Linked DNA regions of Homo sapiens. The protein of the gene in region 1 purifies or fractionates together with the protein of each later gene. This does not show direct contact. Each region holds a gene or a part of one and is shown on either strand. Other genes may lie near its edges.

Region 1 (5,041 bases):
GAGAACATGCCGTGTTTGGTTTTCTGTTCCTGCGTTTGCTGAGAATGATGGTTTCCAGCTTCATCCATGTCCCTGCAAGGACATGAACTCACTCTTTTTTATGGCTGCATAGTATTCCATGGTGTATATGTGCCATATTTTCTTTATCCAGTCTATCATTGATGGACATTCGGGTTGGTTCCAAGTCTTTGCTTAGCTTTATATTTTGAAATAATTATAGATTTACAGGAAGTGGCAAAACAATATGCAAGGAAGTCCCACGTGCCTTTCACCCAGTCTTCCCAGTGGTACCGTCGTTGCATCAGGAAATTTCCATCAGGTCAGTCCACAGGGTGCATTCAGATTTCACTCATTTTCCATACACTCCTGTTGTGGGCTTGGGGAGGGGGGTCTGTGCAACTTTATCATTTGTGCAGATTTGTGTGGCCACCACCACAATCAAGACCCAGGATGGCTCCATCACTACGAGGCCCCTGGGCCCTCCACAGCCACCCCTTCCCAGCTCCTCTCACAGGCTTCACAAGCACATCTACGATCACAGCGCAACTCAACCCTGGGCGCCATGGAGGCGGTAAGCCAGGAAGTGTCCCCCTCGCTGGAACGAGGGCTGGAGCCCTGGGAAAGGAGACCTAGTGGCAGACCCCAAGCTCCAAAAGTACAAAAAAGGGACCAGAGTCTAGTTCTCCTAACTGCCAGCACCACAGTGTTTGTTCTTTAGAAGAGACTGACCCCAAGCCCCAAGTGGCACCAGCAAATCCCCTTCTGGCTGCTCTGCTTCTTGGGGTTGTCAGCAAAAACCAAGCCATAAACCCTCCTGTCACAAGACTCTCAGGCAAAGGCTCCGCCAGTGAGCAATTGTGCACACGCACCATTTACGCCGTATCTCATCACCATGGCGAGCTGCTTCTTGGTCCTGCCGTCCGCCCCCAGCTGAAGCATCCCCAGGACCGACGCAATCCCATGGGGAGAGATCACGATGTTGTCATGAGGCCTCGACTTCACAATCTGATTGAAAACCTGGATCCCCGTGTTGGAGCCTAGTTCCTCGAGAGACAGAGGATTGAAGTGGGAGCAGATGGAAGGCAGCGTCACAGAGGCCAAGAGGAAGAGGGGGAGATGCCAGTTCATGGTTCCTTCCACCAAGGACGACCTGGAAAAGTAAGTTAAAAAATATTTAAATTATACTTAAATGGGTACTTTACTACTTTTTTTTTTTTTCCCCCAGATAGAGACTCGTTCTTTCACCCAGGCTGGAGTGAAGTGGTGCCATCTCAGCTCACTGCAACCTCCGCCTCCTGGGTTCAAGCAATTCTCCTGCCTCAGCCCCCTGAGTAGCTGGAATTACAGGCGTGTACCACCATACACGGCTAATTTTTGTATTTTTAGTAGAGATGGGATTTCACCATGTTGGCCAGGCTGGTCTCAAACTCCTGACCTCAAGTGATCTGCCTGACTCAGCCTCCCAAAGTGCTGGGATTACAGGTGTGAGCCACTGTACCTGGCCTGCGAGGCCATTTTGTACTCACCTAGTATGCTTGACTGTACTCAGCATAATTGAATGCCATGTGAATATATTTAAGACAGAACAGTGTAATTAAATCAGTTTTCAAAACACACCCTGGGGAGGTGGGGAGGGAAAGGAAGCAAACTTCCATCTCTTGGGTCCTTACAATGTGCCAGGTCCTATACTAATCATTATTTAATTCTCGGTTATTTTATTTTTATTTATTTATTTATTTTGAAACAGTCTCACTCTGCTGCCCAGGCTGGAGTGCAGTGGCGCAATCTCGGCTCACTGCAACCTCCGCCTCCCGGGTTCAAGTGATTCTCACGTCTCAGCTTCCTGAATATGTGGGATTACAAGTGTGCGCCAACTCGTCTGGCAATTTTTTTTTTTTTTTTTTTTTTAGTAGAGATGAGGTTTCACTGTGTTTGCCAGGCTGGTCTCGAATGTCTGGCCTCAAGTGATCCGGCCTCCCAAAATGCTGGGATTACAGGCGTGAGCCACCATGCTCAGCCTAATCATTATTTAATTCTCATAAGTGCCCTTCATCCAATTAAGCCAATATTTACTGAGGGTTCACTGGGTGTCGGACCCTTTTCTAAGTGTTAGGCATATGACATAACTGAATGGACAAGACTCTCACCCGCACTGAGCTTACAATCTAGAAGGGAGACAGAAAATAAGCCAGCAAGCAATAAAGCATTTTCAGAAAAGGATAAAGAGCACAATGATAAAATACAGGGATGCGAGCAGATGAGGGGCCGGCAGGGTGCGGGGGGTGGTCATTAGATAGGGTGATCAGGGAGCCATCTCTATGGCAGGAACATCGTGATGAGACCTGAATGGGGGAAGGAGCCAGCCACACTCTGATGGGTAAACAGTACGCTGGGCAGAGGGAGAGCAGGGCCGAGGCCCTGACGTGGGAATAAACTTGGTGTATTAGAGGCCAGTGTGGATGTGAAATCAAGGTCGTAAAGAAGGGAGACAGGTGGGTGAAGCCGAAGGAGAGTTCAGATCTGGTAAGGTCCTGTAGAGCCTGGAAAGGCACTGGGATTTCACTCCAAGGGTTACAAGAAACCCCTGGAGGATTTCAAACAAGGGAGTGAATCCCTCGGGTTGCTCTGATTATCTTATAACCACAAGCGCTTGATTCTTTTACCATAAGCACACTGCTTTTAAAATTAAAGAATTATTAATTAAAATAAACTTAAGTGACTGCTTTAAAGTTACAATAGGGTAGGACAATTGGTAAATTCATCAATTTTGAGGATGGTGTTGCTTACACGGATGTTCTCAACTACAGTGATTTGTTTTAAAGAAGCTTCCTTCCTTAATTACCACTCACAGAGCTTTCTCTGGCTATGACAAGTAAGAGGTAGGAAATTTACATGTATTTATGGAAAAGCAAATACTTTCATTAAGTAAGAACTTAACAGTGGCAGCTGGTAAAACAAAAGCAGCATTCGTGATGTTGCTAATTCAGTTCTTCCCCAAGAGGCCCAAGCTCCTGCTAAGCACAGTCTCCCGTGGAGCCAATGTGTCCCACTCTGTTGTTACGTGTGGGAGGTTAGGGGTGACTGCAGAGAATAAAACAGAAGGGGGCCTTTTAAGAGACAGGTGACCTGGAGGGAGGGGGAAATCATGTCTCTGTGTGCTCTGGGGGAAAGCATGGGCACAACCACAGTGTTAGGCAAAACTGGCCCCGTATTTGGTGTCTCCTTGCCTTCCTTTCTACACACTTTCTGTGCTTCCCACCCTAGGGCGTAGGAGATGTTCAATAAACACTTGTGAGATTAATCCGATGGCTCATAAATACTTCCTATTTTTATTAATTAATCTTTCCCTGCATCACAACAGCGTTTATGGAGTGTGGCTAAGAAAACGCTTGTGTTTAATCCTGATCCTCACGGTCAGCTCAAGACACTCTCTGAGGGAAGAGCCACCATCACATCGAGCAAGGACTGTGGGCACACGCAGAACTCCCTGCCTGGCCCCCCGACACAGAGGGCCCCACTGTGAACCACTGAGGCCATCCTTCCAGCTGATGTTGCAAGTTTCTTATATGTTGTGAAACAAGCGCTTTTCTAAAGATTTAGAATGTTCCGTGTTTCTCCAGAGCTTCATTGTAAAACAATTGTATCAACTCAGCCCGTCTAAATTCAAAACATGTAAGTGACCTACATACGCTGCTCCCGCTTGGGCTCAACGGGCCAGCGTGGCCTATTTTGACTTTGGCACCTAGGACTGGCTCTAATGCCACGACAATCCCTGGAGTTTCCTGGAGCCTACTGGACTTTGGAGAGCGTCCAAATCATGACCGTGGAAGCTTTATTCATTCCATCTAAAAACTAGAAACTGTGTTCTCCCCTTCCTTCCTCCCTCTTGCCTTTTCTTTCTTTTGAGCAATAAATATCCTCTTTAAAATTTAATATAGCACAAAGTCATCATAAGTATAAAACATTGTGTACAATCTTTCTTACAAATGGCCAAATGCAGTGACCAACTTCATCCATCTCAATTGTTGTCTCTTGCATTATAGTCTATTCTGGTGTCTACATTCGGCCCACTATAATCTGTACTCCTGAAGCCTCCCCAAAGAAATGCTCCTAGATTAGTGAATATTTGAATAAATATTAGAATTTGGATTCAGAAGACATGAACATTAAACTGGTTTTGCCTCTGGTAGCTTAAAGTTGATAGACTCAAATACTACATATATATTATATATATGTAGTATTATATATTATATTATATAATATATAAATATATTTTATATATTTTATATATATTATATATATATATATATATATATATATATATAAAACATTGTAAAAACAGGGTGAAAGGATCAGTGACAGTGAGAAATCTAACAGCTCCAATGTCTTAAAGTCACAAGGACAGTCTCCCAAATAAACAGCCATCTTATTTAGCAGAATTCTGCTTCATTATAAATTTTCGCTAAAAGAACAGTTTTCCTATGACACGGAAGAAAGCTGTTATGGGTGTTTTTCTGGGTTTCTTGGACTTGGGAAGTTTTTGAGAGCTGTCTATGTACAGTTTCATAAAAGTGCACTGGGACAGTGTTAGAGCTGTGCAGAACTTGGAATCAGAGCTATTTTTGATTGATGTGCTGGGCAGAACTTCTCCTTGGCCTTGGTTTCCTAGGCCAAATGCTCACTCGTCTAAACTCACCTGGCTTATATACGTGTCTAAGAATAAGCTTTCATTTTTCTCCAAAGTTCAGTAGCCAGGAGAGTGGGTGTTGATCTATAAATTACTTTAGGCCTGCATAATTCCTAACAATGAAACACACTCATGTCCAAATAGACAATCGTTTACATGAAGTAACTTGGAGTTCTCAAGCTTTGAAATGCTTGATCTCTGGAACAAGCAGATGCCATAATGGGAAGTACATAGAAACCTCCTGTTTATTTTCCTTTTTAAGAGAAATTACACTTTAAACTTTCAAATCAGAGAGAAATAAGAGTGCTGCCCAAATGTACTGCATAGCAACAAGATGGAAGATTATCATTTGCT
Region 2 (5,041 bases), on another chromosome or scaffold:
GAAAGATCTTGTTATCTTTTACTATTGAGACATGCTTTCATTTTTGTGGTCCTGTTTCCAAAGCTGCTCACGGTGACAGGTCAGGAGGTTGGGCTTTAGCTGAAAACAGGGTGGCATGGCCACTTTCTGCCCAGGGAGGAGGCATTCCTGGAGAGGCTAGTGTGCATTCATGTCTTCCCATCTGACAGAGTATCCTGAAATCAGACCAAGTCCTGAAAACTTCCAAAATGGGAAGTATCTGGGAAAATGCACTCTTCCCTCTCCTGTAGGGTCTCGTCCCGCTTCTGCGGTGTGGTGGGTCTGGAGAAGTCTGTAGAGAAGCACTGCGCCTTTGCAGTGTCTTCTGAAGAAGAAGAGGCGGGATCTCATTTGCTTTTGAGGAGTCGGGTGTTCCTGGTCACGGTCGCATGTTGTCACGAATCCAGTCTAGGTAGTTGGTAACCTTGGTGTACACACCCGGGACATCCTTCTGTCCACAGCCCAGGCCCCAGCTGATGATGCCCACCAAAGTCATGCGGCCATCGTTCAGACACACCAGGGGGCCTCCCGAATCGCCCTGCAAAGGAGATAGCAGGTTTGGCGTTTGCAAAAAAAGCAGACTATCTGGAGAAAGTCAGTATGTGTAGCATGAACATCGTAATCTTCAAAATACAGCAGGCCCTTCAATAATATTCCATTCAGTGTCATTTCATTATAACTTTGATGAGGAAAACAAAAATCAATTCCTGTCTGGGGACACTGTCTGCCTGGGTTTTGTCCAGGTACCCCGGTTTCCTTCCACATCCCAAAGCTTGCACATTAAGCCAACTGAGGATGTATCTACGTGGGCCCAGTCTGAGTGAGTGTGGGTGTTAGTGGCTCTGCAATAGGATGGTGGCGTCTGTCCAGGGCTGGTCCCGCCTGGCGCCCTGAGCTGCCAGGTGGCTCTGGCCACCCCCACCCAAGACCCTGAACCGGAATAAGCACGTTGGAAAATGAATGAATACAAAGTGTTATAAAGTAAAAATCTGTCTAGTCTGTGCTAAATACACGAATGCATGATAAACTGTGAGGTGTGGAGGCAGTCAGGGAGCCTGCCCTATTTGTGATTGTTTTTGAACTTCATGGTAGTAAGAGGTGTTCCTTACCATTTTTGCTTTGCAAACATTTATTCCCTGAATTAACCCACCACTATTATGGCCGCCATCATTCACTTATTCTCCAAAAATTGGGTAAATAAATACCATGTTTGTTTTTATTAACCTTTCTTAAATGTTGTATAGCTCACATTTATTTCAATATTGAATGTTAGAAGTGTTTTGGGTCTTTATTTAGAAGTTTGCTGATGTTTTTATGACTAGAAATATTGCCACAAGAACTTCACTCTTCTTTTTTTGTTTTTTTTTGTTTTTTTGTTTTGAGACAGAGTCTCACTCTGTCACCCACCCAGGCTGGAGTGCAGTGGCGCAATCTCAGCTCACTGCACCCTCCACCTCCGGGGTTCAAGCAATTCTCGTGCTTATGGGCACGCACCACCACACCTGGCTAATTTTTGTGTTTTTAGTAGAGGCAGGGTTTCACCATGGTGGCCAGGCTGGTCTCGAACTCCTGACCTCAGGTGATCTGCCTTCCTCAGCCTCTCAAAGTGCTGGGATTACAGGCATGAGCCCCGCACCTGACCAACTCTTGTTTATATCAATTAGCTGGTGGTAAAATTGGTTTTGTTATACGTCATTTCACTTACAGTTGCAGTTTCTAAGAACCTATTTTTTCCAGGCATGCTGTTAAGTGGAGACTTACTGAAGAGTGGGTAGATTGTATCTCAGTTATCTTGGTCCCATGGAGGATTAGGCTGTATCTATTCTGGTAAAGTAGAGTTAATTACTCAAACGTTTCAGGCCTCAAAAACCCTGGCTTGGCTCCATCACTTACTAGCTGATGGCCTTAGACTAACCATGCTTTGGTTTTCTTATCTGTACCATAGAGATAATATTCATACTACCCATAGAGTGGTTATGGCATTCAGTAGAAGAATGCATGAAAAGCACTGGAAGACATCTAGTAAAACTCTTGGTAATTGTTAGCTGTTCTTATATTGAATTAAAATGATTTGGTTTTGCTTTTAACTAAGCTTGCAGATAGATAATGGTTTCACTTTGGTACAACCTTTTTGTTTCTGGACTGTAAGCTGGTACAGCTGAGGTTGCTGAAGAAACCATTCAAAAAGAAACTAAATCCTGTCAGGGAATCAGAGGGGAAACCGCCGATATGACTGCCTTGCGAAAACAAAGCCCACACATCCTTCAGCACCAGAGCCTGGCCTCACTTCTCTTTGTATCTCTTCTACCCCCAGCCCCTAAAGGAGAGCTTCGCACGCTGCAGGCACTGAAATGTCTGAGGAAGATCAATTCCTTGGCTCTGTGCAGGTCTTAATACCAGCAGGCTGGCCTGTCCTCCCATACCCCAGTATCTGGCTAATCATGAAATATAAGTACTAATTCTGATAAGGATGCCCACACAAAGGACCTCAAATAGTGTGCTTTCCCAGGGTATTAGGGCTGAATGTGAGTTTTGAAAACTTCTTTCTCACATCATCTAGATCCTGCTTCCCAGTAAGTTGCCTTTCTTCCTTCTCCTTCTACAAAGCAGACTCCAATTCTCTAGTGCCAACAGAGGCAAACATTTCTTTCTTTTTTTTTTTTTTTTTTTTTTTGAGATCGAGTTTCGCTCTTGTTGCCCAGGCTGAAGCGCAATGGCGCGATCTCGGCTCACTGCAACCTCTGCCTCCCGGGTTCAAGCGATTCTCCTGCCTCAGCCTCCTGAGTAGCTGGGATTACAGGCATGTGCCACCATGCCAGGCTAATTTTGTATTTTTAGTAGAGATGGGGTTTCTCCATGTTGGTCAGGCTGGTCTCGAACTCCTGACCTCAGGTGAGCCTCCCACCTCAGCCTCCCAAAGTGCTGGGATTACAGGCGTGAACCACCACACCAGGCTGAGGCAAACGTTTCTTAATTGTGTGGCTCTCTCCATCACTTCAATAGTCAATCAATTGCCTGGGCTGAAAGGAAATCCTGTACAGGTGGAGTTGCCTGTGCAGATCCTGGGGAAATTTCCTGCAGTTTAGAATTCTTAGGTTTAGGTGACTTTGATCTTCCTCCAGTTGCTTTATTCTGTGAGGCCCTCATCTAGAATCCCCAGGGGTATCACTAAGAGGAAATCACTCCACTCTGGTGATAACTTTTTTCTTTGGTGAAGAACCTGTTGTCCCAGGGGCATTCTCCCCTGGGTTGTGCCCAGCATGGGCGCGCCACTCCTGGTTACCTGGCAGGCGTCGTGCAAGTTTGCCTGGGGCCCGCCGCTCCGAGTGTCTCCAGCACACAGCATGTTGTCGGTGACTGTTCTGTTAAGTAAATGTTGTGATGTGCAGCGGCTGGATGGGTACAGTCTGACATGAGCCTCCTTCAGCCGCTCCGAATAGAAAGGAGACACTGAAAGGGGAGAACCATCATATGGTTTTAGGGAAAGTTATTTATAAACGTTTTTGAAAGAGAAAGCCAAATTTTCCAATAATAGCTAACATTGATCAAGATTCAACATGTATTAGGTCGAATCCTATGACACTGCTGGTATTTTATCGTTTTGACCCACAAAAACAGCAGGATTCCGGGATTGAACCCACAGCCTCTCCGTAGTGGCACTGCTGATGCTTCGGACCAGGGAGGTCCCTGTTGTGGGGGATGGGGACAGTCCCGAGCCCTGCAGTGTGCAGCATCCCTGGCTGCACTCACTGAAGGCCGGCGTTAACCCTCACCCTAAACTGTAACAACCAAAAACGTCTCCAGACCTCGCCAAACGTTTCCTGGGGGACAAAATCACCCCAGCTGACATCCATTCGTTCAATATTATCTCATTTAACCCTCCTAATCTAATTAGGGAGATAGTTCTATCTCCACTTTACCAACGAGGAAACTGAGGCTGGGAGCAGTTCAAAATAAAAATCCATGTCCACGGTCACACAGCTCAGCAAGTGGGATTTGAAATCGGGTCTTTGTAACTCCAGCTTCCCAGAACCCACACGCTTAGCGACTGTACTCCACTTCCTACTCAGAACCTTCCCAACACCTGCAGCACTTCGAGGCCCTCATACTGTTGTGTCCTTTCCTGGCCTGCAGTGTCCCTGTGAGGCAGAGACAGCAGAGACGGGCCCCCACGACACAGGGAGACGGGACTGGCGTCAGTGCCTGACCCGGGGCTGGAACTTCGGTCTCCTGACCCCATTTTCCTCTGGTGGACCGCAGCCTCCCCTGCTGTCCCGCAGACAGGATGGGGCCGAGACTTCCTTCCACTTACAGGCCTCATGCTTGCCGTAGCCGGAGAGCTCACACTCCGTCCAGTCCGGCAGCTGCAGGTCCGCCGGGGGAAGGCACACAGTGCGGACCACGCTGCTCTCCTGGGCACAGCGGGACGAATCCGATTTCAGCTGCAGCAGCGCTGGGAGGGAGAAAGGAGGAGTGAGCTGGCGTGAGGGCCGCGTCCCCGGGAGGGGAGGAACACGCAGGAGGGGCAGGGGCTGGAGGAGGAGGCCCGTGTGTGTAAACATAGGTGAGTGCATGTGGGTGTGTTGTGTGATCTGTATGAACTGGAGCCGGGAATGACGAGCTCTTACCAATGTCATTGTCGTAAGTGTCATCATCGAATTCCTTATGGACAATGTATTTTTCGACTTCAAATTTCTGCTCCTCCTCGCCAGGGACCACCCGGTATGTTCTGCCCAAGATCACCGTCAGGTGGTGGGGCGGAAACCTGGTGGAGAAACAGCCTTAGAATGCTTTTTTTGCTGTGGGATTTCCCCTAAAGGGCTTGGTTTCTAGGCGTTAGAGGGTGGAAAAACCAACTGGGTTTCCGAGCCCCTACCTCTCCTGGAAGCAGTGGGCGGCAGAGAGAATCCAGCAGGAGCTGATGAGTATGCCCCCGCACAGGAACCGCTCTCCGGGCGACCTCCTGTGCTTGGCAAAGATGGCAGCCTGCCAGGGGTGGGAGGCGATGTCGGCGAAGAGCCCT

What was found. The genes of interacting proteins can lie anywhere in the genome.
Region 2: the proteins of SERPINE2 (region 1) and PLAT purify together in Homo sapiens (affinity purification with mass spectrometry; one large-scale study listed by BioGRID and IntAct). This does not show direct contact.

The regions. Positions count from the first base shown.
Region 1 is NC_000002.12:224,000,773-224,005,813, forward strand, and holds part of SERPINE2 (glia-derived nexin isoform b precursor), read right to left. Parts: intron 1,151-5,041; coding exon of another isoform or gene 1,129-1,150; coding exon 870-1,128; intron 1-869. UniProt on the Homo sapiens protein: Serine protease inhibitor with activity toward thrombin, trypsin, and urokinase. Promotes neurite extension by inhibiting thrombin. Binds heparin.
Region 2 is NC_000008.11:42,175,596-42,180,636, forward strand, and holds part of PLAT (tissue-type plasminogen activator isoform 1 preproprotein), read right to left. Parts: coding exon 4,895-5,041; intron 4,784-4,894; coding exon 4,647-4,783; intron 4,472-4,646; coding exon 4,331-4,471; intron 3,469-4,330; coding exon 3,302-3,468; intron 557-3,301; coding exon 398-556; 3' UTR 1-397. UniProt on the Homo sapiens protein: Converts the abundant, but inactive, zymogen plasminogen to plasmin by hydrolyzing a single Arg-Val bond in plasminogen.